7 linked regions of the Homo sapiens genome follow. The protein of the gene in region 4 purifies or fractionates together with the protein of the main gene of each other region. This does not show direct contact. Each region holds a gene or a part of one and is shown on either strand. Other genes may lie near its edges. The genes, in order: METTL16, WDR11, PHF6, UBXN7, PLCG2, KLHL12 and PLEKHG3.

Region 1 (3,500 bases), on a different chromosome or scaffold from region 4:
TTATTTTTAGCATCCATTGATAATTCTTAATTGAAACAATTATTAGCATGGCGATTGCCAAATGTAATTATCTAACTCTTTCATTACTTCTACATTTAAGGATGGACTCATGTATTTTATTCTATGGTCTATAATCCTTTGTTAGCCTTCTTCATTCACATTGACACAGATTTGGCCAAAGGGAGCCCCATCAAGCAGGGTCTAGTGTACTTCTGATTTGTTTCTATCTTCCTTTCAGCATGTCCTGTTTTCTAATACAATAAAATGCTTCGGGTTTATCTTGTACTTCCCTTTCCAATTCTGGAATAACCATTTATCCAAGGAACTCCGATTCCTTTGGGGAGTGCTATTTGGAAACCAAGGTCTGGCACTCTAGGTATGCTCGTAGCGATGGGAGCGTCATTGCTTCCAGGCTCTGGCTGTGTCTCTTCAGGGTCCACTATAGTCATCCTGTTTCTGTCTGCTGTAGATTATATTAAAGCTTCATTCTTCATCCCTTCCATTTTCCTCCCTATAAGTTAGTGTCTGGAAGCATTCTTAGAGGTCAGACGAAATCATTATATTCAGGTATGGAATGCAATTTTTGTATAGATAACAAATCTATATTCATGAAATCTGATGCTGCCCATCATCCATCTTTTTGCAAGGTCTTTTCCTGTGAAAGGTATGTTTTTTCTTTTCTTTTCTTTTTTTTTTTTTTTTTGAGACAGAGTCTCTCTCTGTCACCTAGGCTGAAGTGCAGTGGCACAGTCTCGGCTCACTGCAACCTCTGCCTTCCGGGTTCAAGCGATTCTCCTGCCTCAGCCTCCTGAGTAGCTGGGATTACAGGCATGCGCCACCATGCCTGGCTGATTTTGTATTTTTAGTAGAGTTGGGGTTTCTCCATGTTGGTCAGGCTGGTCTCGAACTCCCAACCTCAGGTGATCCACCCACCTCAGCCTCCCAAAGTGGTAGGATTACAGGTGTGAGCCACCGTGCCCGGCCAGTCCTTTACTTTTATAGGTGGAGAAACTGAGACCTAAGAACTGAAGTGACTTACGTCCATGGCAAATTGATTGCAGAGCCAAAAGTGGAGTCCAGATCTCCTAACTTCCATACTAGAACATTTTTGCTGTGGGGAGTGGAGAGAGATTGGGTTGATGGTACCTGCCTGAAGTTTCCATGGTTGCTGGGTGGAAACAGCACTCTTCCTTCTGTCTTGGCACTCAAGCATCCCGATGGACATTGAATTTTTCCAATGATTGGTCATTTGATGACCAGGCAGGGGAGCAGAAAAGGAGATAGTACAGACCAGAAGCTGTTTGAGGATGTGTTGTTGCCTGACCAGACACCTTGAGGCCAGAATTCTAAGTAGTTTCAAAACTCCTCCCTTTCATACCCCATCTACTGACTTTCTGCTTTCTTCAAAATGCTCTGTTGGCCAGGTGCAGTGGTTCACGCCTGCAATCCCAACACTTAGGCTGAGGCGGGAGGATTACATGGGCCCAGGAGTTCAAGACCAGTTGAGGCAACATAAGGGGCTGGGCCCTTTTCTCTACGAAAAAAAAAAAAAAAAAAAGCTTAGTGTGGTGGTATGCACCTGTAGTCCCAGCTACTTGTGGGGCCGAGGCAGGAGGGTCACTTGAGCCTGGGAGGGTGAGGCTGCAGTGAGCCATGATCACACCGTGCATTCCAGTCTGGGAGACAGTGAGGACCTGGCTCAAAAACAAAACAAAACAAAACAAAACCCACAAAAACCAAAAAAGACCCTGCTCTGTTTATAAATAAGGTCTGTTGATATTCTTTTTTAATATTTTCAGTTTAGCAGTATTTTGACATCAACATAGTTATATTGGTACAAGTTTCTTAAAAGGTTAAATACAAATATATCTTATGATCCATTCCTGACTGTCTACCCAAGAGCAGCGAAAACGTATGTCCACACAAAGACTTGTATGTAAATGTTCATAGCAGCATTGTTCGTGATGGTCAACAATCCATCATGACCGTGATGGAAACAACCCAGATGTTCAGGAACTGGTGAATGGATAAACAAAATGTAGTCATTCTTACTATGGAACATTATTCGCCCATAAAAAGAAGTGAAACACTGACAAGTTACAAAATGGATGAACCTCACAAACTTGTGTTAAGTGACCAGAAGACCTCATTATGATTTCAGTTACTTGAAGTGTCCAGAAAAGGCAAATCTATGAAGACAGAAAGTACATCAATGGTTGCCTCAGGCTAACGTTGGAAATGAGGAAAGACATGCAAATGGTCATGAGTTCTGCTTTTTGGGGTGATAGGAGTGTTCTAAAAGTGGGTTTTGGTGATGGTTGCACGACTCTGTTAATATACTAGAAACTATTCAATTGTACACTTACAGGTGAATTTTATAGTATGTGAATTATACTTCATAAAGCTTTAAAAAGTTACATTTAAAATTTGATGTCTGTAATATTTGTCATATTTAAGTATCTTATCCTGTGTTCATATTAAACATTTTTATACTGACTTCTTTCCACTTTTAAGTAGGATTTTCAAGGAATGCTAATGTCAGATGATGTTAATGGTAAGAGTAAAAACAGCTAGCATTTGTAAAATAGTTATTATGCACCAGACATTATGCTAAGTACTTCTCAGGTCATCTCACAGTAGCATTGTGATATTGGTATTACTGTCCTCATTTCACAGCAGAGGAAACACTTTCATAGAGGTAAATGACTTGTTCAAAGTCACACAGTGAGGAGACGACGAGACAGGAATTTGAGCCGAGTCATTTAATCTCTGTGCTCCATATACGGATATGCAGTGTTTTTGGTGGAGGATTGTACTGATTTTCATAAGCTGTGACTGTGTGAAACACTCGTGTATGTGCCACTGGGATGAGTGCTCTGTGTAACTGTGTGTGATCTCCCTGGGAGGTTCGGATGGGTATTTGGTTCTGCCTGTTTGCCGTAGAGCTTGTACAACATAGTGAATCTTACTAATCAGTTTTACTTCCTTTTCTTTATTCCTCAGCCTTAATTTTAAAGACCCCGAAGCAGTCAGAGCTCTGACGTGTACTCTCCTAAGGGAAGATTTTGGACTTTCTATTGATATTCCATTGGAGAGACTAATTCCCACAGTTCCCTTGAGACTCAACTATATTCACTGGGTAGAAGATCTGATCGGTCACCAGGATTCTGACAAAAGTACTCTCCGAAGAGGAATTGACATAGGTATATCATTTTAAATTCTTTTTTGGCTAAACAGTTTTCATAAGTTTTGCGAGATCAAATTCTTTGTAAACTTTTCTACTGGGTATTTGTTGTTGTACAAAAGAAGCTGGCTACAGATACAGGTTGAGCATCCTTAATCCGAAAATCCGAAATGCTTCAAAATCTGCAACCTTTGAGCACTGATGTGTTGCTCAAAGGCAATGTGCGTTGGAGCGTTCCAGATTTGGGGGTTAGGGATGTTCAGCCTGTAAATATAGTGCACATATTTCAAAATCTGAAAAAAAAATTGAAATCCAA
Region 2 (3,331 bases), on a different chromosome or scaffold from region 4:
TAGCTGGGTGTGGTGGCACGTGCCTGTAGTCCCAGCTACTCAGGAGGCTGAGGGAGGAGAATCACTTGAACCCAGGAGGCGGAGGTTGCAGTGAGCTGAGATCACGCCACTGCATTCCAGCCTGGGCAACAGAGCAAGACTCTGTCTCCAAAAAAAAAAAAAGAAAGAAAAGAAAGAAGCCCTCGGTACATTTGCATTAAAAAAAAAGCCTGATCAAGATTTGAAAAGCTCATAGACAGTTACTGCGTTGTTTACTAAACATTAAAATTTTATTATTAAACAGGCTTGTTTAATTTGTCTTACATTTTTAACTTGGCTTCATTTTAATTCTGTCATTAATTTCCTATAAATAACAAATACTTTATACACTTGGTTTGAATTTGCTGTTCACATGATAATTTCTTTAACCTCCTGCAGAATCCTTCAGTGCACATAGGTTTTTCATCCGGCTCTACTTAAGTGTCAGTTTCTGTAGGCAGGCAGGTATGCATCCAAGTGATAATATCTATCAACATTTTTGCTGTTCAAATTCTTATTAAATGTTTGGGGTGCTGTAAAGTTGATTATCTAGTAACCTGAAAAGTCAAAGTAGTTTATTAAAATGATCTTATTAAGTACAGTAAAATTTAAATAATTCCAAACTCTTATAATCCAGGCTTAATTTTTCTTTTTTTTCCAATTCTAGAAATTTCAGCTAGAAAGGGTTAATCTGCAGGAAGTGAAACGGTCAACTTATGATCATACAAGGAAATGTACAGACCAGCTACTGCTCTTGGGTCAAGTATGTCAGTTTTTATAACTCTACATGCTTCATTAAATTGCTAGTTAATTCGTATTTCAGAGCAATATATCTGTATGTATATATTTCATAATATTTTCCCCTTGTATGTACCTCCTTCCCTGTAGACAGTTTAGGCTTTCTTTCAAAATAATACCAATAAACCTCATGAGAAAAAACATATGGTTAACCAGCTTGTAATTTAGACTTCCATAATGCCCAGTGGAGCCCAGCTATTTGTTTTGTTTTGTTTTTGTGTCTGAATTGACTGGTACAAAGCTAAAATAGGCAATTACTCGAGCACCTAGATACACCAGCCTCTGGCTTTATGTTTGTCTCAAAAAAGTAGTGTAGCACCTCTGTTTAATGTTTGTATTTGTAAACAAAATATTCAATTGCATTTTTTGAAAATGAGTGTTTTCCTTTAGTTTTCTACCTTATGAATTTTAAAAAGTTATGTTGGAGGAAAATGTTCTCATAATTAGAAAAACCGTTTCTCTTACTAGACAGACAGAGCTGTGCAGTTGCTGTTGGAAACAAGTGCAGATAACCAGCATTATTACTGTGATTCACTGAAAGCCTGTTTAGTCACTACTGTCACCTCGTCAGGCCCCTCTCAGAGCACCATTAAGTTGGTGGCAACGAATATGATTGCCAATGGCAAATTGGCAGGTAAGGCACACTTGATATGTTTGTCATCTCTCTGAAAAATGAGACCTTGTTCCCAGCAAAGTATCTGATTAGTAGGGACATTTCTTTCTCTTTTACATATGCTGAAGAAAAATAGAAAAATTATTGCTACCTATAAATCAGATGAATATAATTGTCTAAACCAGAATTAATTGTTTACACTTTTCAGAGTGAAAGGGGGCACTGTTAATAATTGCTGAGATAATAGGCATAAATCCAACAATCCTAGGCAAATCAGAACAATAAAACCTGTGAGAGAACTATGCTCTCCCTACTTATTCTCCAGACTGTATTGTGCTTCCTACCCTGGTTACTTGAGTAATAACAGTAAAACTCTTAATATTATGTTTCAGAATTTAAATCAAGAATGTCTTCAGTAGGTATAAAATGGGCACGACTAGATAAGGTCAAATGGGGATTTAACTTTTTAATGACTTCTCAAAGAAGGAGCTGCAGTGTCACTTAAGGGGATGCGCTTTTGTCTTTCAGAGGGCGTTCAGTTGCTCTGCCTGATAGATAAGGCTGCAGACGCCTGCCGCTACCTGCAGACATACGGCGAGTGGAATCGGGCTGCATGGCTGGCAAAAGTAGGTGGTTCCAAGTTTCAATAGGTGCCCTCAACATTCGGGATAGAAAGCTCAGTCCTGAACTTTGGACTTATGACTTAGAAACATTTTTTGGCCTGCAAAGCTGCTTTGCAAATACTGTCTTGGAACCTTTATCCTTTTCCTATTCTTTATGAGTGTAAATTGCATTACTTATTTAAAAATGGATCTTGCATTGGTAGCAATTAAGTAAAAGCAGCTGCCTCCTCTTTCTCCCAGAGTCTGAGCCGAAACTACAGTCCAGAGGTATAGCCAGGCCCTGGGTCCCGTAGGCACAGACCGTTATCATTATTCAGAGTATGCAGCAGCTTCAGGGCAGTGTGCTAGTCAAGCAGAGCATAGCCTGTATTTCATAGAAACAGATCTCACTTTAACTGAATTATTATTTTTTCTTTATAGAGTGCAGGATGTTTTTGTTGTTAACACAGGCGTCTTTCTCAGGTCCGTTTGAATCCTGAGGAGTGTGCCGATGTTTTAAGGCGGTGGGTTGACCACCTTTGTTCTCCACAAGTCAATCAGAAATCAAAGGCTCTCCTGGTTCTCCTCTCTCTGGGCTGCTTTTTTAGCGTGGCAGAGACGCTTCACAGGTAAACCGAGAGTTCACATGGGCTGCTCAGGCCTGCCCGTGAGCAGTCACTTCATGTTCTCTCGCGGTTCTAGCAGGTCATGGTACTCGATGTGTAAAGTGAAAGGAGAAGTATACATTTCAGGTTTGTCAAAAAACCCAAAGGAGAATGGAACTGTCCGTATTCATTACATCTTCATTCGGTCTAGGAGCTATGCTAGTTTCCTACTAATATGCTGATCAGACTTAACAGGCACCTAGTAAAAGGGAATTTAAAAGTCTTCAGAGAATTGGGGTCCATTCAGCTTTGACTAGAGCAACTGAGAGGAGGCCCAGAGAGCAGGGGGAGAGGCGACAGAAGGCATGGTGAGGTGGAGACATCCCGTCTGAAAATCTGGAAGAGGAACAACCATCACTAATTGTGGAGCATTTCATTTATTCAAAACTAAGGGAGGTAGATTACGGAAATATGACAAAAGATTACTTGTCAACTCTGGACAGGGGTACATGGGCACTTGTCATATCTCTGTAGATTTTTGTGTATTTAAACTATTTCACAATTTTTTAAAGTATTAATTTTAAAAAGCTTGTGTTTGGAGATGTGAGTATTCTTCCCTCCTTTTTTCAACAAACTAGGGCTTAGAAAAGTGCTTGTATCTTAATGCAGTATGCAGGTTTCCAGGGAAAATGTGT
Region 3 (3,979 bases), on a different chromosome or scaffold from region 4:
GCAACTTAATGGAAACTAGGTATGAAAGTTAATTATATGGGATCTGTTGTCAGGATACAATACACACTGATATATACATGTTGAAGTAATGGTATGCAGTAAGATTTTTTTTAATCCTATTATGTTTAGTTAAGAGCATGTTACTAAAATGCTGAGGATTTTGTAGGCTTGCATAGTAGTTGTTTTTTAACTAGCTGATTTTGTAACCATAAAAACAAGCTATCTGCTTTATCAATAAGTGTAGTTGTAATGTCAAATCAATAAGATATTCACACTCCTCAATAACATTATATTGATTGTGTTCCCCTCAAGCATCATATTTTACATTTTTTTATCATCTTTTAAACAGGTTCATGGGACAGAGTTAGAAAACTGGGAATGAATAAGACATCCATAACTACTATTCTTTTTTCACTGTTTTCTAAAATCAAAAAGGGTTTGTAACTTTTTACTGCCCAACTCTTAGATCCTTCATTGAACTGCCTAAAAATGTCTTGTTTGTTTTATGAGCCCTCACTAGAAGGCTGAGTTTGACATGTTGATATTACGTAGCTATAGTTTGCAGTTTCTGGGAAGCAATTGAAACACTATTAACCCTGTGTATAGTGTCAACAGTTAAAGCAGACGAAACGAAGTAAGCTATATTTCTGGACTGAACAAAGCTCTGCTGTTTAGAGCATTTAAGTTTGTTTAGTGGATCCATACTCAAAGGAAAGCATAAGCAAATTTTCCTTTACAATGCAAACATGCCACTGGTGGCAGCACATGGTAATTTGTGGATTTTTTTTTCATACTCAAGTAATGGAGGCTAGAAATGAAGAGAACCTTCTTTTTCTCTTGACTTTGACAGCACATGCTAAAAATCTCTTCCAAGAAGTATGCTAAAGCTTTTCATTTGGTTCCTGTTAAAGTTGTTCTCACTGACCAGCATGGACTCAGGCAACTGGTAATGATAAGCTATGAGCTCCAGTGCTTTTGCCAAAATTCTCTTGACAGCACACCTCCTCTCTTTCCATGTTATACAAAGGACTTCTGGCAAAATGATTGAGTCCTTCAAGTTTAAACTAACATTTGGCAACAGCAAATTAAACGTTTTTAAGATGTAAAGAAAGGGTTACCGCTTGCTAAGGACTTCAGACACCATGTCCGAAACCTGTTCCTCTCAAGTGCCCTGTTGTGTGGAACACTTCACATATTGGCGCACAGTACGTAAGGAGGTCTCATGTGCTGTAGGAGTAAAAAAGTCTTTGCATAAAACAGTATTTATTTTTACTTTTGTGACCACTATTTTAGAAACTTTATTTAATATTTTAATGTTTTCAGTCATTGCTTTGGTTATCTATAAAATAGGCTTTTGTGCCCTACTTTTCTTCTTGTAGGGCTTGGTGGTGTTTTATCGATTGTCAGAATTGTTTTTGAAAGCCTAAGAACCCAGCTTTTTAGAAAGGATTTTCACACTGGCATTTCTAGGTAGTGATATTTTCTTCCACTTACCTGCTGAAGCACATTTATGCATTTCTTTATGGCAAAACCAAATAACTTTAGTTGTGGTCTGCCTGATACTACCATAGCACCTCAGTACCAAGGGGAGGGATTTTGACTAGTTGAATTATTAAGCCACCACAATAAAGCAGATTTTTAAATAAGAAATAATAATGTTAACTTGACTGTACATTGAGATATTCTGCAGCTGATAGAGCAGCATTTTAAAAATGTAACAGGTGGAAAATTACACTGTGCTTAATGACTGATTTTTTTTTAAACTGCGAGTCCCTTAAGATCACGTTTGTCAAGTGTGTATTCACACATTTACTTAAATCAAGGGACTCAATGCTTGCTTTTATTTTAACCATCTTTTACTATTTTTAGAAGGAAACTAGCTTTAGTAGTGGGTTGCCCTGTATGTTTTCTCTTTTTGCTCTTAATATGCCATTGGGTTTTTGTGTGTATGTGATTTTCAAAATTCATGACTTGAAGTGCAAGGACAGATCTAGATGTTTGTTTACCAAGCTATGTGACTTCTCCCAAAGGATCTGTACTTTCTTTCCTTACAACAGCTTGAAAATCATTATTTTAAAATCCTTAAATCACTGTGTCTAGATCATTTTTTACATTGTGTGCCATAGACTTACCCATGGGACAACAGAGCTCCTTCATTTTTGGACAACTACTGTAATCATTTTTTTTTTAGGAAAAATGGAAGGTGCCGGGGGTAATCATGGCCAGTCAATAATTATATAAAGGAGTTCAAATACTATAGCTGTCAGTTGATGAATTTGTTATGTAGTAAAATGTATGACTTTGTATGGGTTTCTTCAGCCCTTTTTCTGCCACTAGCAACCAGAATAGCACTTTACCTTTTGGTTGGCTAGATAAGTGGCTGACTACCTGTTTTTCTCACTGTGGTGTGATTGGCTAAACAATCTCGCATTAAAAATTCAAATGTAAATTGAATTCACATGAAAAATCATGTTTGGTTGTAAACCTCCAATGTTTTGATTCTCTAATCATGTTTTCGTCACATGCTGAGTAAAAGTGCCTTACAATGTAAAAATTGTACAGTACTTATGTTCCCAAGTAGCATCATCATCTTCTGGGTAGTAATTACATTGTGGTATTAATATTTAGAAAAATGGACCTCAGCAGTGTATTTACTGTACATCTCTTAAGTCCTTAACTGTAGTTTTAATAAGCATGACATTATTTGATAAGTATATAACATTTACATCATTTCAAAAAATACTGCCGTTACTGTCTTTTATGCATATTTTAGCCTGAAATTTTGAAGCGTCTTTTTTCTTTCTTTTTTCTTTTTTTGTTTTGTTTTTTGTTATTGATATTAAACAGTGTAATCTTTGCAAGCGTATATTGAAGATTATTCTGGAGCATTTATTGCCTTACCAGAAATGTTAGTAGGAAATGTTCTTTAGAGTAGAAAGATAGACTTGAGTTTCTATACTTTTAAGAAGAGCTCTTTGTTCCTGGGGGAGGGGGGCAGGGGGTGAATTTTACTTTCATCTCAAGTTATTAAAAACCCACAACTGAAGTAAATTTTATTTCAAGAATCAGCAGTTTTAGAATTTCAGATAGTACTTGCTCAGAAGTACATGCTACTCAAGATATTAAGAGATAACAAGATCTGTAGATCTGCTATTGAATCAGAATCTGTGTACTTGAACAAATGTGTGAATCTCAAATATCTCAAAGCAAAAGAAAAAGTGTTCTAGAGTGTTGTTGCTTTTTTAAAAAAAGCGCTGAAGTTAGACCAAGGTATACAGTTTTGTTCTAACAGACATTTAGGTTAATTGTAAAGATAAGGAATGCATTATGGGTCAAAAATCAAACATTCCTCTCATGTTATGTATATTTTGTTCCTGTTATATTGGCTTTATTTTCAAAATTGTAGTTTGTAGTATTAGTTTCCTTTTATTGGTATTCTTGCATATACTATTCATTCAATAAATGACTTATGACTTTCATATTTGTTTGTCTTTTTTGTGAAAGTGTATACTGAAGCTTATTTGATAACAGCAATAGTATTGTGTTCCTTTTAGTCTTGCTTTATTTCAGAGTAAAATGCCTTAATAACTTTTCATTAAACAAGTATGGGAGGAAAAAAAGTGTGAATTTGAATTCAGTTCAAAGTTTCACAATATAAAAGTTTTATCATGGAGAGAAACTGCAATCTTGTAAGTACAATCGAACTGCATTACATCTTGGTTTTTTTATTACATGGTTCAGATGCCCATCGTTTAAATCAGATCCTCTGAAACCTAGTTAGAAGGTTATTTTGAAAATAAACCAAAACTCCTAGTACTATTTATCAGATTGGCAATATGGGTGCAGGATTAATATCCTTGTCATAAAGGGATTTTACCTTATATCTTTAAATGTACTCCCATTACCATGGACAGTGTGCTTCTAGTACAGTGCTCATATATTGAGGTTTGTCACATCCAGGGCAGAAATCAAGTTGTAA
Region 4 (3,500 bases):
TGCTTTTCTGCCATTGTTTTCCACTCAGCAGCATTTCATGGGTCTTTATGCTGACAAGGGACTGACAGGCAAAAAGTACGCACTAACGATTGATGTATCGATATCTGTTGTACGAATCGTAGAGTTGTTTGGGGATCATTCTCAAACATTCTTTGACCTTGTAATCCCAATTTTTGGAATCTACTCCTAGGAAGACAACTCTTAAGAGAAAAAACTCTCAGCAGTTTTTACTAAAATGTTTAGGGTGATTCTCCAAAACAGCATATATGCCTAATAACTGAGATTAATATGATGTTTAAAAATGTTCCAGAAATGATGTTGAAGAAAACAAAGTAAAATATACACACCAATTGCATTCATTAAAAAGAAGTATAATTGGCTGGGCGCGGTGGCTCACGCCTATAATCCCAGCACTTTGGGAGGCTGAGATGGGTGCGTCACCTGAGGTCAGGAGTTTGAGACCAGCCTGGCCAACATGGTGAAACCCCGTCTCTTTACTAAAAATATATAAAAAATTAGTCAGGCATGGTGGCACACACCTGTAATCCCAGCTACTCGGTAGGCTAAGGCAGAAGAATCACTTGAACCTAGTAGGTGGAGGTTGTAGTGAGCCGAGATCGTGCCATTGTTCTCCGACTTAGGCAACAAGAGCAAAGCTCGTCTCAAAAAAAAAAAAAATTGTTGATGGAGGTTGCAAGAGAATAAAATTACGTGACTTGTTGATCTTAAGTTTGTTGAATCCTTTTCAGGTAAAGATGTTTAAACATACATTAAAAATTCAGCCATTACCGGTCATGATGAGTCACACCTGTAATTCCAGCACTTTGGGAGGCCAAGGTGGACGGGTCATTTGAGGTCAGAAGTTCGAGACCAGCCTGGCCAACATGTTGATACCCCATCTCTACTAAAAATACAAAAATCAGCCAGGCGTGTTGGGGCACGCCTTTAATCCCAACTACTTGGGAGGCTGCGGCGGGAGAATCACTTGAACTCAGGAGGTGGAGGTTGCAGTGAGCCGAGACTGCCCCACTGTACTCTAGCCTGGGCAATAGAGTTAGACTCTGTCTCAAAAAAAAAAAAAAAAGAAAGAAAGAAAGAAAGGAGAGAGAGAGAGAGAGAGAGAGAGAATCAGCTATTATAACAAATAACTGGATAAAAGAGAAATGAGTTCATTTAAATTTGAGCAGTGCTTGAAATGGACAGTATAGCTATAAATGCATATGCGAAGTAAATATATAGAATGTATAAATGCTGAAAACTCTAGATGTCGTATCTGGCAAAAACTTAGTATTTTTAATGAAAGACAACAACCTCTGAACAACTACGGAAACATCTGTCACTAAGTAGAAATTATTTCTAACAAATGTGTAACTTTACTCTTGCAGGCCAAAGAGTGTGGCCAGATGCAAAATAAGTGGCTGATGATAAACATTCAAAATGTTCAAGACTTTGCATGTCAGTGCCTCAACCGCGATGTGTGGAGCAACGAAGCTGTGAAGAATATTATCCGGGAACATTTCATTTTCTGGCAGGTGAGAAGGAGAGTTAATCAGAAGTTTTGTAGAATTTTACTTTTGTAGTGTGGGTTGTTGAGGGAAAGGAATTGGGTTATAATGAATTAAGACATTTAAAAAAAGGTAAAGCCGGCTGGGGGCAGTAGCTCACGCCTATAATCCCAGCACTTTGGGAGGCTGAGGCCGGCGGATCACCTGAGGTCAGGAGTTTGAGACCAGCCTGGCCAACATGGTGAAACCCTGTCTCTCCTAAAAATACAAAAAATCAGCCAGGTGTGGCAGCAGGCACCTGTAATCCCAGCTACTCGGGAGGCTGAGGCAGGAGAATCACTTGAACCCGGGTAGCGGAGACTGCAGTGAGCCAAGATCACACCATTACACTCCAGCCTGAACAATAGAGCTAGACTCCATCTCAAACAAAACAAAACAAACAAACTGTACTGTTCAGTAGAAATATATTGTAAGCTGTACACATAATTTAAATTTTTCCAGTAGCCACATTAAAAAAGATTAATCAAAATAGATGAAATTAACTGTAATAATGTATTTGGTTAAATCAATATATCTATATAACTAATACAAAAATAATGAGATGATCTGCATTTATTTGGTGTTGAGTCTTCAAGATATGGTTTGTATTTTATACTTACACCCCTTCTCCATTTGGAGTAGCAAGATTTCAGGTGCTTCAGTAGCCACTTGTGGGTAGTGGTTGCTGTATTAGACAGTGCAGGTATAGAAGATCTTGAGGTAATTGGAAGCATTTGGCTAAGACTTAGATTTTAGCTTGAGTTTGATACTTTTTAACTCTGTGTTCTTAGACATGTCACTTTAGTCTTCCCAGCTAATGAGATAAGGTTACAGACCTTGTATCATTTTTCCCCCACTGTGAGACAGGGTTTTGCTCTGTCACCCAGGCTGCAATGCAGTGGCATGAACATGGCTCAGCCTTGACCTCCTGGGCTCAAATGATCCTTCCACCTCAGTTTCTTGAGTAGTTGGGACCACAAACATGCACCACTATGCCCATATAATTTTTTTTTTTTTTTTTTTTTTGTAGAGATGGGGTCCTGCCATATTGCCCAGGCTCGTCTCGAACTCCTGGGCCCAAGCCATCTGCTTCCCTTGGCTTCCCAAAGTGCTGGGATTATAGGCATGAATCACCGTGCCGGCTCAATTTTTTTATTTTTTATTTTGTGAAAAGTTATAGAAAATAAAAACTTATGAAGGAGCTTAATTTTTTCCCCTACTGTAAGATATGCTATTAATGTTATTAATTTGCCTGTTTATATTTTACAGGCCCCTAAATTTAATGTAACTTTAATGGTAAAATTCCTTGTATTTTATTCAACAAATATTGATCGAGCAGCTCTTTGCTTAGCACTGTGCTGGACTCTTGAGCTTATAATCTTTTTTTCTTTCTTTCTTTTCTTTTCTTTTTTCTTTTTTTTTTTAAATAAATGGACAGGGTCTTGCTCTGTCACCCAGGCCGGAACACAGTGGTGCAGTCATAGCTCACTGCAGGCTCTAACCCCTATAGGCTCAAGGGATCTTCCCACCTCAGTCTCCTGAGTTGCTGGGACTATAGGTGCACACCATTAAACCTGGCTAATTTAAAAACAAACAAACAAACAAAAAAAAACAAAAAAACTTCTCGTGGAGATGCCCAGGCTGGTCTCAAACTCCTGGCCTCAAGCTGTCCTCTGCCTCTGCCCTACAAAGTGCTAGGGTTATAGGTGCGAGCCACCATGTGGAGCCATAATCTTTTTTTTTTTTTTTTTTTTTTGAGACAAGTCTTGCATTGTCGCTGGGCAGGAGTGCAGTGGCACGATCTCAGCTCACTGCAGTCTCTGCCTCCCGGGTTCAAGCGATTCCCCTGCTTCAGTCTCCCGAGTAGCTGGGACTACAAGCGCCTGTCACCAGGCCCGGCTAATTTTTGTATTTTAGTAGAGACGGGGTTTCACCATGTTGGCCAGGATGGTCTCA
Region 5 (3,500 bases), on a different chromosome or scaffold from region 4:
CAAACTCAGCCATATTTGTATTTACAAAATAAGTCATTTTATAGAATTACCCATTAAGAATGGGAAACAGGAACAAAAAAGGGATTTCAAGGCTTTTTTTTTTCTTTTTTTGAAAAAACCAAAAAAAGCAGAAGCAAAATGGAAGTTGCTGTGGTGGCTGGTGCTCTCTCCTGGGCTCAAGGTCTTGGAGACCTCCCTGCCATAGTTGATAAAGCGTGGAACGCTGGAGACCTGAGCTGGGTGCTGGCAGGATTTGAATGGTGGACTCCAGGGATCTTTTGGCCGTGAAGATCTGTTTCCAATTGCATCTCATAAGCTCATTCATGTTCTTGTATCTCACAAGCTTATTTAGAAGGGCATTTCGTGAGATACAAGAACCCCAAACCAGAAATCAAGGAAGTTTTTCTCTTCAGTGCTCTGTGCATGTTAAGCCAGTACAGGATTTCATCCAAAATCCCACAAAACGATTCTGTTAAAATGGGGCACAGGCAAATACTTGAGTGGTAAGGGCCCCTCCAACAGTTGAATGGACATTACTGCTGCACCTTACACCCACCCTGCAGCATCAGAGGGGATACAGTGTTTTCAAAGGAACGGTGTCAGCCACTGCAGGTGAGAGTGTAAATTCCACCCCTGCTCCTTTAGGGCAACCTGTGAGCAGCTATTACAAAGCAATTGGTGAGACGCAGCATGGAAGTCTGGTGTTTATGGCTGAGTTGATCCACTGGGCTTCGAAGCTGGAAGTAACTGGGACCCTGGGGAAGGTTAAGTCCAAGGCCCTCCCAGAGTGAGGGCTGGAAAGAACTGAGGAGCCTGGTCCCTTGTCCTGGTTTCTGTCTAATTGAAGGTGTTATAATGGGGCTTGTGTTTCCTACTTATGTTCCAGTGGACTATGGCCTAGAGACCTGGGAGTGGGGAACTCCAGGATGCATGGCTGGGAACAGTCAACATAGTGAAGAGCTCTGTGGTTGGCAGCTGGGTCAAATCCAGTTTCAGCTACTTTTTTAAAATTTTATTATTATATTATTATTATGCTTTAAGTTTTAGGGTACATGTGCACAACGTGCAGGTTTGTTACATATATATACACGTGCCATGTTGGTGTGCTGCACCCATTAACTCGTTTTGCTACTTTCTATCTGTGTGACCTCGGATAAGTCCCTTAACCTCTTTTGAGAGTGGCAAGTACTGGCAAATCAGTTAATATCTGGCCAGATGCTGCCACAGGATTCTGGACTAGGGGCTTGGGACTCAGGTGAGGGTTTTGATCTTTGTGCTGCTGCTGGTCTACATGACTTTGATCAAGTAATGTGACCTCTTGGGATTTCAGTTTTCCGCTGCCGTATTTCCCATTGAGATAAATGAGACGAACCAGACACAACAGGTGCTTGGCACCTGGGGAAGGGCCCAATAAATGGCTGCTTAACAAGGATGAAATGGACCATGGGGGCACCTTGTTCATCCCTTTGTCCTGGCTAATGATCAGGAGGTCATTTTGGGTTTCTCCTGATAAGGTAAGATGCACATTAACTCTCAGCAGGGTTTTTTTTTAGCATACTCTGTTCTGCCTCCTAGCCTTTGCTTAAACTTAAAGCCAGTTCCTCCTGCTTCATCTTTTTTGAAAGATTGAGTTCAGATGCCTGCTTTTTTCCCCTGAAAGCTTTTTCTGAGCCCTTTAAGTGCCTAGCCACACTCCAGATTAAATTTAGGATTCCTTCTTGCTGCTCTCTGCCCGCCGTGCCCCCAGTGCATGCTTCTGCTGCTGCACTTGTAACTACATTAGAATTCTCAGTTGATTAGTCTGTTTCCCCATGGGCAGAGAGCAGGTGTAATTATCTCCTGCTGCTGGCATGGCTGACCGAGGAGGTCCCTTTGGTATGGGTGTGCAGTAGAGGGAGGTGGGGGCAAAGGGCAAATCCTGGGCCCCTCCCCATTCCCCTCATTTGCATCCTAGTCCCCACCTCAGTGCCTGGCATAGAGTTGACATTTGATTAATGCCTTCCCCAATGGCTGATTAATGCTAACTGAGACCCTGGTAAATGCTGCAGGCTGTGCATACATTGTAGCTTTTTGTCTTCCCAGCTGCCCCTTGTGGGCATTTAACCTCCATTTTACAGATGAGGGAACCGAGCCACAGATTTAGAGCAGCTTGGCAGAAGGCTGAGCCCGGCTGGAAGCACAGACAGCCCTGGCTGAACACCAGCCTCTCACTCCTCCTTCTTTGGATCCTGGGAGGGTCTCTCTAGTGCTACTCTGTAACCTTGAGAGCTACAGAGTAACAACTCCAGGCACCTCCAGGGACTTGGAGGGAAAGGAGGAGATAAGAAACAGAACAAATAATGGTAATTTTAACAATAGCTTAATCTAAGGAGTGCTGACTTTGTATCATTGTTTTAAGGGCCTGAGATACATTATCTTGTTTAAGCCTTACAAAAACATTTAGATGGTGGATACTGTTACCTTCTTTTATGGGACTGGAAATGAGCCCAGAGGATCTAAGTGACTTCTTGCAGCCTAGCTGGCAAGGGGGTCCCTGGTGGTTCAGCTCCAGGGCCTGGGGAGCGCCTTCACTCTAAGTCCTATTTTGGGGGCAGGCAATGTGTTTCTGGGGATTTGGGAGGCAGAATGAGGGAATGGTACAGAGTGAGGGCTCAGGGAGGGACTAAGGGATTTTGAGCAGAGGAGTGACATGATTTGATTCATGTTCTAAAAGGATCCTTCTGGCTCTGCATCTGAGAATTGACCCTAGCAGGTCAGGGAAGAAGTGGGGAGAGCAGGATTAGAATAGTTCAAGTATGAGATCCTAGGAGGAGCCGGTGAAAGGGTGAGATGCGTTGGAAGTGGTCGTGAGAGAGTCCACGCAAGGATTCCTCCAAGGTTTTGGGCCCAAGCACCTCTCTGACACTGACCACCCACAAGCATAAACAGCAATCAAGGACACCTCCTAGGTGCTGGCCGTCACCCCAGGTGCTTTGCTGGGGCATTTCTGAACACTCCCATTTTAAAAAGGCTAAAACTGAGGCACAGAGAGGTCAAGCAGTCTACCCAGAGCTACACAGTCAGCAGGAACCTTCTCTAGGGTTTGAACGTGAAGCTGCCAAGACCTGACATTTCCTGCCTTTCATCCTCATTTCTATGCAGAGGAACCATTTGCCAAAGTCTCCATGGATGATTCTGAAGGTTTAGTTTGTTTTTCGTTTATTTCATTTTTTTTTTTTTTTTGTTCTTAATTTTGCTCAGGAATAAAGAGATGGTTAGAAATCTCTAGACAGGATAGAGAAGGATGTTGGAGATTAGGGGTGAGAGGTGGGAGCCAGGCTGGGCTGCTTTGGCTATTCAAATATTCTTTAGGATAAGAGTGGGTGGGGAGAGAGGGGACTCACTGCCAGGTCAGGGTGATTTGGTTATTCAAAGCCCACGTAACGGTTGGGTCCTTGAGGTCAGGGGCTCTTCTCACACTTCAGTTTCCATTTAAACCTTTGTGTCCTGCCTTAGCTCTC
Region 6 (3,500 bases), on a different chromosome or scaffold from region 4:
TTCATTTGGAAAGCTACAGATAATGTGCCATATTTGCTTTATTAAAATCCAACAAAATTGGCCGGGCGCGGTGGCTCACGCCTGTAATCCCAGCACTTTGGGAGGCTGAGGCAGGCGGATCACGAGGTGAGGAGATCGAGACCATCCTGGCTAACACGGTGAAACCCCGTCTCTACTAAAAGTACAAAAAATTAGCCGGGCGTGGTGGCGGGCGCCTGTAGTCCAAACTACTCGGGAGGCTGAGCCAGGAGAATGGCATGAACCCAGGAGGTGGAGCTTGCAGTGAGCCGAGATGGCACCACTGCACTCCAGCCTGGGAAACAGTGCAAGATTCCGTCTCAAAAAAAAAAAAAAAAAAAAAAAAATCCAACAAAATAGAGCATAATTTTATTTTTTTATTTTCTTTCTTTTTTATTTTTTTGAAATGGAGTCTCACTCTGGTGCCCAGGCTGGAGTGGAGTGGCACAATCTTGGCTCTCTGCAACCTTCGCCTCCTGGGTTGAAGCAATTCTCCTGCCTCAGCCTCCTGAGTAGCTGGGACTACAGGCATGTGCCACCATGCCCAACTAATTTTTGTATTTCTAGTGGAGACGGGGTTTCACTGTGTTGGCCAGGCTGGTCTTGAATTCCTGACCTCAGGTGATTTGCCTGCCTTAGCCTCTCAAAGTGCTGGGATTACAGGCATGAGCCACCACGCCTGGCCTGTAATTTTTAAAGATAAATGTTCAATTAATATTATTAACATCTCTAAGCTCTTAGATATGAGATTCTGCCTTTATCTTGTGGAATTATAACCATCATTCTTTTATACCTTTTGAATTTTCAGCTCTCAGAGAAGGGGAAACCTTATGTTGACATCCAAGGTTTGACTGCCTCTACCATGGAAATTTTATTGGACTTTGTGTACACAGAAACAGTACATGTGACAGTGGAGAATGTACAAGAACTGCTTCCTGCAGCCTGTCTGCTTCAGTTGAAAGGTACAGACATTAAAACTTGCTATTGTTTATGTCAAAATAGCCCTGGAAAGGTTGAAAATTAATAGTGTAAACTTAATCATGAACATTTTGGAGACAAACTATGGATGTTCATGTTTGCTGGCCATGGCTTTTGTCTCATTGAGCAATAAGAGATCAGATGTCAATAGCACTATAAAGGAACTTCTCCAGATATGAGTATTTGGCTCTATAAAAGAGAGCATTTGCACCTTTTCTGTTTTAAAAAAAAAATGGAGGAAGGAGAAATTATGTGTTTTCTTACATACATGTATGTAACACACCTATAAGGAAATATAATAAAAAAGTGATACTATACATAGCCTACATGGATACTCTTTATCTATCTGGCCATTAAGTGGTAGTATTTCATTAAGATACATGAAATTTAAATTGATGCACAAAATATTAAAGTATGATATTTTCACAGGATTACAGGTGGTTTGTTTTCCCTTACAATTCCCAGGTTTTTTGTTTTGTTTTTGAGACAGAGTCTCACTCTGTCACCCAGATTAGAGCACAGTGGTGCAATCACAGCTCACTGTATCCTTGAATTCTTGGGCTCAAGCAATTCTCACACCTCAGCCTCCTGAGTAGCTGGGACCACAGGTGCATGCCACCACACCCAGCTAATTAAAACAAAATTTTTTTGTGTGGAGATGAGTTCTCTCTATGTTGCTCAGGCTGGTCTCAAGCTCGTGGGCTCGAGTGATCCTCCCACCTTGCCTCCCAGAATGCTGGAATTATAGGCACGAGCCACCGTTCCTGGTCCCCAGTTTTTCTTTTTTAACATTCAGTTATGTTTTCAGTTTTTATATATACATAATTGACACACTTTTAGTTTTTAATACATGATTTAAACAGTGTGAAGCTTTTGCATTAGTGCATAGCCATAACATTAAAATACTCTGAACTTTTCAATTAGATAAATATGAGATTTGTTATTACTATCTTCTCCTTTTCTTTCACTCTAGTCTTTTAGTAAGTTTTCATGTAGAGTAGAAAATGGATACATTATGCTGAATTCGCAATTGGTTTTATAGTTTGATTCCCAAGAGTTTTATAGGCATTTTTGTTGAATTGTGCCAGGTCTCTGGATGTGATTCATCTTGCAATACTCATTTTAAAGATTAAGCAGAGACAGGTGTAAAGGTCTTGCTGAAAGTGGCACAGTACATAAGCCAGAAATAGAGTTTAAGTTCCTTAAGCATAGAATTTCTAATCTGTTTCTTAGGTGTTGAAACAAGGGTTCATCTGATAACATGTAGAGAAGATGCTGAGATACAAGAATATATCCTAGATCACACCTGTCCAACTATTCTAAAGTGTTTGCTGCCTGTGTCTGTCCTAGGTGTGAAACAAGCCTGCTGTGAGTTCTTAGAAAGTCAGTTGGACCCTTCTAATTGCCTGGGTATTAGGGATTTTGCTGAAACCCACAATTGTGTTGACCTGATGCAAGCAGCTGAGGTTTTTAGCCAGAAGCATTTTCCTGAAGTGGTACAGCATGAAGAGTTCATTCTTCTGAGTCAAGGAGAGGTGGAAAAGCTAATCAAGTGCGACGAAATTCAGGTACGGATTTGTCTTGATGTTATGGTTTCTTCAAGATTGGGCAATTACAAAACTTGCAAATAGGATGCAGTTACTTACCATCAGGGCTTCATAATTAAGTGTGCATTTTGGCTCAAAGATTTCATTAACCCCTCCTGTACCAAATTTATTTGCATTTTTATGGAGAGGGAGTTTGCCACTTTCTTCAATTAGATATATGATCCCAGTGGGTAAGAATCACTATTCAACAGAGTATAGAATAAGCAGAAATTGGAAGTAAAGTAGGTATCTGTAGACCACTTCTCTATTACCCGTTCACTCATTTCACAAACATTTATTGAGAATATCTACTATGTAGCACTTAACTATGCCAGGTGCTACAGATCCCCAAGTGGGTAAATATAGTTCTTGCTTTCAGAAAATTCACAACCTGCTAGTAGAGACAGAGATATAGACAAAAAAAATGTTATAAAGAGGATCATGAGAATAGTGAGCCTATACAAAGTAAGGACATTACATAGAAGAAAGAAGAATAAACCTTTGCTCAGGAGTGGATCAGAAATGAAGAGACAAAAGTTTGGAAGTGAGGATCTACAGAAGCAGGAGCCAAATCATAACTGTCTTGTGAGGATGCAGCGGTTGGAAGGGAGGGACACATGAACTGGATGTTAAAGGAATAGTAGGCCAGGTGCAGTGGCCTATGCCTGTAATCCCAGCACTTTGGGAGGCTGAGGCAGAACTGCTTGTGTCCAGGAGTTTGATACTAGCCTGGGCAACATGGCAAAACCCTGTCTCTACAAAAAAATAAAATTAGCCTGGCATGGTGGTGAGCACCTGTGGTCCCAGCTACTTGAGAGGCTGAGGTGGGAGGATCTCTGGAGCCTGGGAGTTTGAGGCTGCAGTGAGCCATGATCGCACCACTGCACTCTAGCCTAGGCAACAGAGGGAGACCCTGTC
Region 7 (3,500 bases), on a different chromosome or scaffold from region 4:
TAGGGCTTTCAGGCACAGGCTCTCCCACTGGGCCCATGGGAACAGAGATTCCCCACCTCCCAGGACTCTCAGCCCTGCATGAAGCCTGTTTGGCCTAGAGTATATGGTTTGGTGAGCAGACCACCCCTTTCTATGAAGTAGAGAAAGGCTCCCCTTTGGGCAGATGCAGTCCCATGTCAAGGGCACGCAGCTAGTGGAAATGAACCAGGTATTAGGCTCCTTTCGTTAGGCCACCTTGTATGGGTTATAAGGCCCTGTCCCTGCCAGCATGCCAGACATTGAAATCACACCTGTGGTCACCTGGGCAAAGGGTAGAGAACTGATATCTGTTGGACACCTCCTCTGTAACTGATGTGTTATTTCTTCCTACTCTTCCCCACAATGGCTCTAGAAGGAAAAGGGCACTGAGTGGTTGATGGCGTGCCTAACACTGAGCAGCTTCTGAGGCGCGGGGCTGAGATCAGACCTGGGGCTGGGACTCAGAGGCCCACTCTCCTCCTCCTGCTGCCCTATGCTGTCTGTGGGTTGTAGGAAGCAGCATCCTTTACTTTCCCAAAGTTATAAGGGAAAGATCGTGAGCTACAGCCTGGACCCCATGTTGGACCCCACAGCCAGGACTGAGAAGCCTGGATGATACTGGACAGGAATGTAGCATGATGTCTTAGCTTGAGCTGCTGTAACAAAATCCCTTACTGCTACGTGGGTAGCTTAGTTATTGCTCACAGTTTTGGAGGCTGGAAATTCTAAGGTCAAGATGCCAGCAGACCCTGGGGAGGGCTTGCCCTCTGCTTCGTAGATGGTGGCTTCTTGCTGTGTCCTCACATGGCAAAGGGGCAAGGAAGCTCCCTTGATCCTCATTTGTAAGGGATCTGACCCCACTCATGAGGATGGAGCCCTTGTGACCTAATTTCCCAAAGGCCCCCCCTCTCATTCCCATCACACTGGGTGTTAGCCTCCACATGGCAATTTTAGAGATACACAGACATTCAGAGCAGAGCAAATTGGGGTGTCAAATAATAATACAATGAGAACCACCCATTACAAAGTTTAAAAGAAGCAGATGAAATTAATTTTAGTAGTATATTTTATTTAACCCAATGTATACAGAGTATTATTCTAACATGTAATCAACATAAAAAGTTACTGATATGTTTTATCCCTTTTTTTATACAGAGTCTTTGCAATCTGGTGTGTATTTTATCCCAAGAGCAGGTTTCCATCTGGCCTAACCCCATTTCGGGTGCTCAGAAAGCCACAGTGGCTGGTGGCTCCCATGTTGAACAGTGCAAGTCTAGATCATGGGTCTTGCTCTGCAGATTCTGAACTAGAACAGAAGGAATTATGTCCGATCTTATAATTAGTGTTTGCTCTTATCTCCTTAAAGACTGCTCTGGAAAGCCGCGTATGTCATCAGTTCTGTGGTTCAAATTACTTTCAAGGTGGTCAAGAGGGAATTCTCAAGTTTGCTTTCTTCCTTGCCCATTTCCTGGGCATATGCAGTTGTGCTGGGCCCACAGGTACTGGGAGGAGCCACATTCCTGGTCCTCATCCTCTGACGAGATTCCAGCATGTGGCTGTGTTGCTCTCTAGACCCTAATCCACATGGGAGGCCCTGTCCCCTGAGGAAAATGAAATGGCCTCTCATGTTGTGCAGGTCTGGGTTTGAACCCTAGAACCTCCAAGTGAGGAGCCTCTAGGGCTTTGGGGAGCTGCCTCACCATCAGCCATGCTGGTTCCATGACACTGTGAGAACCAGCCCCTGGGAACCTGGGGCCATGCCCAACCCACTGTTGTGTGTTCCCACCTTGTCCCTGTAGCTCCTAGGCTGGCTGCCATCAAGGTGTTGCCATCCTGACCCATCTGCATTCTTACTGTTTTCCTTGGTTTTGAGGACATGGGCCCAGCACCCCCACTGTACGGTGACTAAAGGACACAGTCATGTTCCTCTAAGGACCCATCACCTACTCCTAAGTCGTGCTCATTCTGATTGCCTTGAGTCCTAAACTACAGGTCCCTGTCATTGGGCCTTGAGCAGGCCATGCTGTCCCCTTGTTCCCCGGATCCCATGAAGGAGGCTTTTTACTCATGTGAGCCTTTTCTGCTATGTTTCAGGTTGAGCCGGACCCTGAGGCTGGGAGTGAGCAAGAGGTATTTTCTGCTGTGGAAGGGCCCAGTGCCGAGGAGACGCCTTCAGACACAGAATCTCCAGAAGTCCTGGAGACACAGCTTGATGCCCACCAGGGCCTTCTGGGGATGGACCCCCCAGGTGACATGGTGGACTTCGTGGCAGCTGAGAGCACTGAGGACCTTAAGGCCCTGAGCAGCGAGGAGGAAGAAGAAATGGGAGGTGCCGCCCAGGAGCCTGAGAGCCTTCTGCCACCCTCTGTGCTGGACCAGGCCAGCGTCATTGCGGAGCGATTTGTCAGCAGCTTCTCTCGGCGGAGCAGCGTGGCACAGGAGGACAGCAAGTCCAGTGGCTTTGGGAGCCCGCGGCTGGTCAGCCGGAGCAGCAGCGTGCTCAGCCTGGAGGGCAGCGAGAAGGGCCTGGCCCGGCATGGCAGTGCCACAGACTCCCTCAGCTGTCAGCTCTCCCCAGAAGTGGACATCAGTGTGGGGGTGGCCACAGAGGACAGCCCTTCTGTCAATGGGATGGAGCCCCCAAGCCCAGGCTGCCCAGTGGAGCCTGACCGGTCTTCCTGCAAGAAGAAGGAATCAGCACTCTCCACCCGAGACCGGCTGTTGCTAGACAAGATTAAGAGCTATTATGAAAATGCAGAACACCATGATGCAGGCTTCAGCGTCCGTCGCCGGGAGAGCCTCTCCTACATCCCCAAAGGACTGGTAAGAAACTCCATCTCCAGGTTCAACAGCCTTCCCCGGCCAGACCCAGAGCCAGTACCTCCAGTGGGGAGCAAGAGACAGGTGGGCTCCCGGCCGACTTCGTGGGCCCTGTTTGAGCTCCCAGGACCAAGCCAGGCAGTCAAAGGGGACCCACCTCCCATCTCAGATGCTGAGTTCCGCCCATCTTCAGAAATTGTGAAGATCTGGGAGGGAATGGAGTCTTCCGGAGGGAGCCCTGGGAAGGGGCCAGGCCAGGGCCAGGCCAATGGCTTTGACCTGCATGAGCCACTCTTCATCCTGGAGGAGCATGAGCTGGGAGCCATCACAGAGGAGTCGGCCACTGCCTCCCCGGAAAGCTCCTCTCCCACTGAGGGGCGCAGCCCGGCCCACCTGGCCCGGGAGCTGAAAGAGCTGGTGAAGGAGCTGAGCAGCAGTACCCAGGGGGAGCTGGTGGCCCCACTGCACCCCCGCATCGTGCAGCTCTCCCACGTAATGGACAGCCACGTGAGCGAGCGCGTCAAGAACAAGGTCTACCAGCTGGCCCGCCAGTACAGCCTCCGGATCAAGAGCAACAAGCCAGTGATGGCCAGGCCACCACTGCAGTGGGAAAAGGTGGCCCCTGAGAGGGATGGGAAGAGCCCCACTGTGCCCTGTCTACA

Evidence for each region.
Region 1: the proteins of UBXN7 (region 4) and METTL16 purify together in Homo sapiens (affinity purification with mass spectrometry, with the first as the bait; one study listed by BioGRID). This does not show direct contact.
Region 2: the proteins of UBXN7 (region 4) and WDR11 purify together in Homo sapiens (affinity purification with mass spectrometry; 2 studies listed by BioGRID and IntAct, with this or other methods). This does not show direct contact.
Region 3: the proteins of UBXN7 (region 4) and PHF6 purify together in Homo sapiens (affinity purification with mass spectrometry, with the first as the bait; one large-scale study listed by BioGRID). This does not show direct contact.
Region 5: the proteins of UBXN7 (region 4) and PLCG2 purify together in Homo sapiens (affinity purification with mass spectrometry, with the first as the bait; one study listed by BioGRID). This does not show direct contact.
Region 6: the proteins of UBXN7 (region 4) and KLHL12 purify together in Homo sapiens (affinity purification with mass spectrometry; 2 studies listed by BioGRID and IntAct, with this or other methods). This does not show direct contact.
Region 7: the proteins of UBXN7 (region 4) and PLEKHG3 purify together in Homo sapiens (affinity purification with mass spectrometry; one large-scale study listed by BioGRID and IntAct). This does not show direct contact.

What each region holds. Positions count from the first base shown.
Region 1 is NC_000017.11:2,477,389-2,480,888, reverse strand, and holds part of METTL16 (RNA N(6)-adenosine-methyltransferase METTL16), read left to right. Parts: intron 1-3,003; coding exon 3,004-3,203; intron 3,204-3,500. UniProt on the Homo sapiens protein: RNA N6-methyltransferase that methylates adenosine residues at the N(6) position of a subset of RNAs and is involved in S-adenosyl-L-methionine homeostasis by regulating expression of MAT2A transcripts.
Region 2 is NC_000010.11:120,903,362-120,906,692, forward strand, and holds part of WDR11 (WD repeat-containing protein 11), read left to right. Parts: intron 1-685; coding exon 686-781; intron 782-1,284; coding exon 1,285-1,450; intron 1,451-1,957; coding exon 1,958-2,055; intron 2,056-2,514; coding exon 2,515-2,660; intron 2,661-3,331. UniProt on the Homo sapiens protein: Involved in the Hedgehog (Hh) signaling pathway, is essential for normal ciliogenesis.
Region 3 is NC_000023.11:134,425,312-134,429,290, forward strand, and holds the end of PHF6 (PHD finger protein 6), read left to right. Parts: coding exon 1-19; exon of another isoform or gene 20-349; 3' UTR 350-3,479; downstream 3,480-3,979.
Region 4 is NC_000003.12:196,369,928-196,373,427, reverse strand, and holds part of UBXN7 (UBX domain-containing protein 7), read left to right. Parts: intron 1-1,385; coding exon 1,386-1,532; intron 1,533-3,500. UniProt on the Homo sapiens protein: Ubiquitin-binding adapter that links a subset of NEDD8-associated cullin ring ligases (CRLs) to the segregase VCP/p97, to regulate turnover of their ubiquitination substrates.
Region 5 is NC_000016.10:81,782,291-81,785,790, forward strand, and holds part of PLCG2 (1-phosphatidylinositol 4,5-bisphosphate phosphodiesterase gamma-2), read left to right. Parts: intron 1-3,500. UniProt on the Homo sapiens protein: The production of the second messenger molecules diacylglycerol (DAG) and inositol 1,4,5-trisphosphate (IP3) is mediated by activated phosphatidylinositol-specific phospholipase C enzymes. It is a crucial enzyme in transmembrane signaling.
Region 6 is NC_000001.11:202,917,235-202,920,734, reverse strand, and holds part of KLHL12 (kelch-like protein 12), read left to right. Parts: intron 1-826; coding exon 827-980; intron 981-2,346; coding exon 2,347-2,564; intron 2,565-3,500. UniProt on the Homo sapiens protein: Substrate-specific adapter of a BCR (BTB-CUL3-RBX1) E3 ubiquitin ligase complex that acts as a negative regulator of Wnt signaling pathway and ER-Golgi transport.
Region 7 is NC_000014.9:64,738,924-64,742,423, forward strand, and holds part of PLEKHG3 (pleckstrin homology domain-containing family G member 3), read left to right. Parts: intron 1-2,112; coding exon 2,113-3,500. UniProt on the Homo sapiens protein: Plays a role in controlling cell polarity and cell motility by selectively binding newly polymerized actin and activating RAC1 and CDC42 to enhance local actin polymerization.